Linked DNA regions of Homo sapiens. The protein of the gene in region 2 interacts with the protein of the main gene of each other region in a pairwise test. Each region holds a gene or a part of one and is shown on either strand. Other genes may lie near its edges.

Region 1 (3,835 bases), on a different chromosome or scaffold from region 2:
TCCACTGTGCTTGGCCTTTTTCCAAATATTTTTGAACCAATCTGCCATTGGTTGCATCATGGAACCAGAGGCTGCATGGGCCGACTGTATATACACTTGGCTTTGGAATCTTGGTAGTATGAAGCGGCCAGTCTGCAGGTCAGATTAAGTCTGTAGGTCACCTAGATCAGTTTCCTGGCCAAGAGCAACAAAATAGCAACCACAGAGCATTCAGTCGACTATACATGGCTATCTTCTCAGGGGGATTCCCACTAAAATAGGTATGAGAATAATTTCTATTTTAAAAAATGATTTGTTTCCATTCTGATGGACATGTTTACCCAAAGGTTATCATGGGAGACAGAAAATTCAAAGGTATAGAGAAACCTACTTTATTTTATTTTTTTTTGAGACGGAGTCTCGCTCTGTCGCCCAGGCTGGAGTGCAGTGGCACAATCTCAGCTCACTGCAACTTCCGCCTCCAGGGTTCAAGCAGTTCTCTCACCTCAGCCTCCTGAATAGCTGGGATTACAGGTGCGTGCCACCATGCCCGGCTAATTTTTCTATTTTTAGTAGAGACAGGATTTCGCCATGTTGGCCAGGCTGGTCTCGAACCCCTGACCTCAAGTGATCTGCCTGCCTCGGCCTCCCAAAGTGCTGGGATTACAGGTGTGAGCCACCACGCCCAGCTGAGAAACCTACTTTAAAATTCTGATTAGCTTGGGCCGCTTCTTCTCAGTAAATCTAGATACATAGCAGGGTATCCTGTCTAGACTTTCTGCAAACTGGAGCTATCTGCCCAAGCAAGGTATTAAGTGTTCAATATGTTCCCATCTTCTAGGTACTAGCACCAAAAATGAAAGGAATGCATGATCCTGCGATCTTAATTGAACTCTGTAAAATAGGCAGTCCATGTTCCCACCCATCTCAAGAAGTGATGTGCAAAGTGTGCAAAGCTCTTTGCAAAGTCAATCAAAGAAACTCAAATACTTGTCCCTGTACGTGGGGAAAAGTGTACTTTGACACATCCCTGCCTCACCCTAGACTTCCTGGGCCTGAGGTTTTTTCTTGTTAAGGAGATCCCAGGATAAAAATCAGTAAAAGGTTGTGACTTTTTCATGCAACTGAAGCAATTTAGGTTGCAAACATCTTCTGCTCATAAATCTGACTTGCAAAGTATCCTTACAACCAACCCTCATGAGCTGGAAGAAAATATTGAATGGAATTTATAATTGTCAGTGTCAATCATGCCAAGAATTGAAATAACTATTTAATTTCCTTTCCCCCCCTTTTCCTTCCCATCAGATGATAATATTTGAGGGGTTTGGATGGCTTTAGCTATACATTGTTTAATTATTCCATCCTACCCAAGCATACAGATGTTAGTGGATCAAATGAGGCACGTGAAAAGTATCTCTCTATAAATGTAAAATATGCAAATGTTTACATGTTGACAGTGATAGGCTCTACTACTTGCTGTATAAGCGAGACCAAAGTCCAGGCCAATGGATAATAATGAGGTTGTGGACCTAACTAGGGGGAGCCTAAAATAATGTTGGGACTACCTAGATGGTCAGAAAGAATGAGCCAATTAACTTCTAAAATCATGGACAGCTTCATTGCTTGGTTCTTCCTCAGGGCAGGTCTGAATTAGACTACTATTAACATGTTGTAATAAAAAAGGATTTTGATCTCAGAGATTCTGAATTATTTACAAATAATAAAGCAAATTAATAAGCAAATTAGAAGTTTTAGTGGATATTGCTCTTGATGGTGGTTTTGTTACTGTTGGTGGGGGTAATGGTGATGGCAGTGGGCACGCCCATATACATTTGCATACACTCTAATATAAATGTTTACAAACATACACACACACACATTCAATTGCCACTCAATTCCTGCTGTGAGTACCCTTCAATGGACAGCTCCAAACCAATTCAATGTTTTTTATTTGAATTTCCCTTGACATGACCAGAAAAAGACATCTTTATGAATCCTTATCAACAAACAGGAAAAATAAGACATGAAGCATTATTTAGACTAGCTCTTGAGCATCCTGTTCACGTTACCTGAAACAATGCTGGACCCTGGGAGACTAAGCAGCTCCTGCGGCCCTAGCTTACTGTCTCCACCAAGAATGCCACCAAATGACATCTAATTGCTCTTCATTAGGCTGGGGGACATTCAGTGCAATCGTAATAGGACCAAAATAGGTTTCAAAGTGTTCTGAAAGGTTTTCCTGTGTATTTTTAAGTTTATATTTATGTGGCCAGGCATGGTGGCTCACGCCTATAATCTTAGCACTTTGGGAGGCCGAGGCGGGCAGATCGCTTGTGCTCAGGAGTTCGAGACCAGCCTGGGCAACATGGTGAAACCCTGTCTCTACTAAAAATACAAAAATTAGCCGGGCGTGGTGGCATGTGCCTGTAGTCCCAGCTACGTGGGGGACTAAGGTGGGAGGACTGCTTGAGCCCAGGAGGTCGAGGCTGCAGTGAGCCAAGATCGTGCCACTGCACTCCAGCCTGGGTAACAAAGTGAGACCTTGTCTCAAAAAAAAGTTTATGTAATGTTTTTTCTTGCTATGAGAGGTCTCAAAACAAAACAAAACAAAACTGCTTCATAAAAGAAAAAAGCTAAATTTGAAGCAACTATTTTGGATTCCCAAAAACAGACATCTTGATCAAATTTAGAATGCAGCAACAATAGGTTTATTGTTATGGCCTTAATGTCATACTCTGTGCTACTCAGATTTTCACATCTGTTTCAGCAGGCAAAATCCTGCAGAGATTTGATACTGTATGAAACATTCAAAGCTTTATGTTAAAAAAAAAAAAAAAAAAACAGCAGAAGTTAACTGAAGACTCACTGTTGGGGACCACAAGCTCACTACTGTATTTTGTGCTAAGCTAATATGCACCAACCATTTCCTGTAAGGAGCCGTGTGACTGGGCACATGATTTATTCCACAAATGACCCAGCTCTCTGCAAGGCTCACACATCATCTAAGAGGAAATAATCGTCTGGGTGGAGCCCATAACAAACAAGAACATGACACTGGACAGGAGGAAAGGGAAGTGCCTAAGGAAGAACTAAAACTGCTCTTCTGCACAGAAATCCAGGGCTTTGAGGAAGTGCAAGTCCCCCATGGAGGAAGGCCACAGTACAAAGTGTTAGATAAGTAGGGTTTGGGTAGAGAGAGGAAAGCAGGTAGATGGGTTGCACAGCACTGCACAGATACTTTCTTACAACGGGTGAGAAAGCTTCCCAAGGGCCATGCGAGCACTGGCCAGGAGCCTTTGCATGGCATATGGAGCAAATGCCGTCTGCCACTTGGTGTCTGAATTTTTTTTGCTCTTGTCCTTTAGTGATTCCTGAGTGTGTTCCAAATTATGTTGCTAGCTTGGCTTAGACAAAAGAAGACAATTTGATAAGAAACACAAATGTTGGACAATTCATGTTAAATCACCATCTGGCCTAACAGAAATATTCATGTTTAAAAAATATATATCATCATTTGCCAACTGGGTAATCTGTTACACATTTTAGGGAAATCTGAAGTTGGACAATTAACTCATACCACTTTAAAACAAACATCTTTGTACCAGGATAAACAAAGAAGAAAGGACTTGAACACAGAATCCATATTAAATATGTCTTTTGCAAGTCAATTTTAGTGCCTTGAATAAACCAGCATCTATCATGCTTAGATGATCCAAAATATTGGAAAAGATAAAGCAAAGATAATACAATCCCTGTCCTAAATTAAAGCTATTCAGTAAACTGAGACAAAGTATTTGAAATGAAAAGTAATCTTTTAGACACTCAAATGTCTAATTAAGGCTTGCACCTCCCATTC
Region 2 (2,804 bases):
GACAGTGTATATAACTTTCTGAAGAGTTTGATTAGTATTTCTGTTTCTTCATTAAGCTGTACCCATCTCCAATGGAAAGAAACAAAGAGGTACTTCAATCAGTTTGATTTCTGAATGCTTAAAAACACTTAAAAAACAACTCAGTTTATTGTTGCTGTTGTTTAAATAGTGCTTGATTTCTTTTTAGATTTTTCTACAAGGAATATTCAAAAAAGAAAAAAAATTAAATAACACCGTGTTTCAGCAGAATCTGTTATTATTATAGATATTTTTGTCATTAGAAATTAAATCAGAAAAGTAGCTAGGTCCAAGTTCCCCAAAAGGTAGGGTTCATGATTTGCCTGTGACCACGACATCTTGACACCAAGACATACTGGTTTTGCCATTAGCTTCAGTTTCTCACCAGACAAAACCAAGCAATTTGGAGGCAGTAACATAATTCACATATCTGTGCTGTCTGGCATGTGGGAGTCACTGAAATAATTTAGTTAGTTCCCTTCCCCAAATTTCTCCATGATACATTTATTGAAGGATTTATGTGAAACAAGATATTTACAGAGATTAGAACGTAGAACTCAAAAAGGATTTATCAGGTGTCCTGGTATCTAAATTATCTAAAAGAATAATATATGGCAAAGTAGTGCAAACACATTACTTGAGTGCTGTGGTCATAAACTATTAAAAATGACACGATGATTAGAAGACAGTCAAAAATTTAGATGACGTTTATCAGTTTTAGATGTGCTACCTTTCAGAGTGATCACGACAGTCCAATATTTTCAGTTTCTGGGCTTTTATTTTAGATTTAAATTTTGAGCATATTTAATTTGCTATAATCATGATTTTCATAGCATGTTTTCTCAAACCGTAAGTATAATTTTAATACAACCAAGTGAATTAAAAATTTTCTTCCCCATAGAAGCATAAATATAATTTTAGAATGAAAGTAACTAATACTGGAGTCTATATGCAAAAAAGACCCTACCTTACATATGAATCCATAAACAATAGCCACGGTATATACACTTGTAACTGAAAATTCTGAAATCATTAATATTTCTATAAAGATATCCACTTAGTCTAATCAAATTCTCCTCTTAAACTGTACTTTCCATAAACTGTTTTTTTTTTAAGTATGTCAAAGTGAGTCTCATGTATATAAAAAAAGAAGTCCTAAAAGTACTAGTTGAGCTCTGAATAAACTGGGTGAAATTTTCTAGTATCATGCCCAACTATTACCATCTTTTTGAAACTTGATTTTTCCAATTCTTAGTAGAATTGCTTAATATGTACATTTGCCTTCTTTATATTTTTTCCACCATCACTTTTACCCAATTTGTATTTTTTTAATAATTCTATTTCCTCTCTTCTCCATACCAAATCGCAAATGGAAAATAGCTTACTCACTTCTTATTTTTAAATTTTAGTTTTTGTTTTCTAGGATTCCAAGTAACAAACATCCAAATGACCTTCTCCTCTGTAATGTTTTCTCATTACAAGCTCTGAAAAGGCTGCATGATAGACAAAGTGGCTCATTTTAGAAATCCCTATCATCTGGCAAAATTCTGTAGCTTCTGGCAATATATTTCTTTCCTGGTTATATAAAGATAAGTTGACTCATTTTGCAATTGTTCTTTTGAGTAATAGACATATTTTACACATTGTTCTTACCTAATAAGTAATAATCACTAGCAAATGATAAGATCACATAGTAACCCATATTAACACCAAAAGAAATGTATTAAAAAATAAAATCTGGATTAGACCACTGATTTAACTGTTATTACTATTATTATCATACCTTCTGTTTTTCTGTTTCATGACTTAGTGTTTTCCTGGGGGCTGGGGAAGGATTTGAATAATCTAAAGGCTTGATGTGATTACCAGACATTTTAGTGGAATAGTTGAAATTTAATATAGAAAGTTTTCAAAATTATTTATGCAGAATAAGGGGAAAATATCTCAGTGGTAAATAAAAGCAAACTCTAGTACTTTCAAATCCTAGATCCCTCAGCAGAACTCCACTGTTCCTGAGTAAATCAATTAGAGTCTTTGCTACACAGTCTTCCTCCTCCGTGCGGTGTTCTGAATAACAGCCCTGCCCTCACCCCTTACATCCATGTCCTAATCCCTGGGACCTATGAATAATTATCTAGCCAAAGGGACTTGGCACACGTCATTAAGTTAAGGATCTTGAGATGGAGAGATTGTCCTGGATTATCTGAGCATCCCCTAAATGTAATCACAAGCATCCTTATAAGAGGCAGGAAGGAAATTTGACTATAGTAGAAGAGTATGTGACCATGGAAGCAGAGATTGAAGTGATGTAGCCAGGAGCCAAGGAATGTCAGCAGACTCTAGAAGTGAAAGCTGGAAGAATCTCCCCTGGAGCCTCCAGAAGGAACCAGACCTAAGGACATCTTGGTTTTAGTCTCTTAAGGCTTCTTTTGAACTTCTGCCTCCAGAACTATAAGATAAATTTGTGTAAATTACTGAAGTTGTGGTAATTGGTTACAGCATCTACGGGAAACTAGACCTCCAAGATCCGCCCATGATTTGAGAAAAATGTTCTGCACTGTCAGTCTTGTGGATTTTTATTCTGAAGCACTTTTCATGGACATAACAAGAAAAATTATTTTTACTTAGTTATTTGAGTATAAGTGTTTGTTGCAATTAATCTATTGGGTATTAACATGTCATCATCAAGAGACAGCAAACAGCAGTGAAGATAAAAGCTGAGAGAAGACATTACATCATTAACAAATGATTTCTATGTTTGAGTAGCCAATTCAATGAGAAATTCA

What was found.
Region 1: the proteins of ETV1 (region 2) and NFE2L2 interact in binary tests that used the Homo sapiens proteins (3 or more experiments, as listed by UniProt).

What each region holds. Positions count from the first base shown.
Region 1 is NC_000002.12:177,237,149-177,240,983, forward strand, and holds part of NFE2L2 (nuclear factor erythroid 2-related factor 2), read right to left. Parts: intron 1-3,835.
Region 2 is NC_000007.14:13,890,453-13,893,256, forward strand, and holds the end of ETV1 (ETS translocation variant 1), read right to left. Parts: 3' UTR 777-2,804; downstream 1-776. UniProt on the Homo sapiens protein: Transcriptional activator that binds to DNA sequences containing the consensus pentanucleotide 5'-CGGA[AT]-3'. Required for olfactory dopaminergic neuron differentiation; may directly activate expression of tyrosine hydroxylase (TH).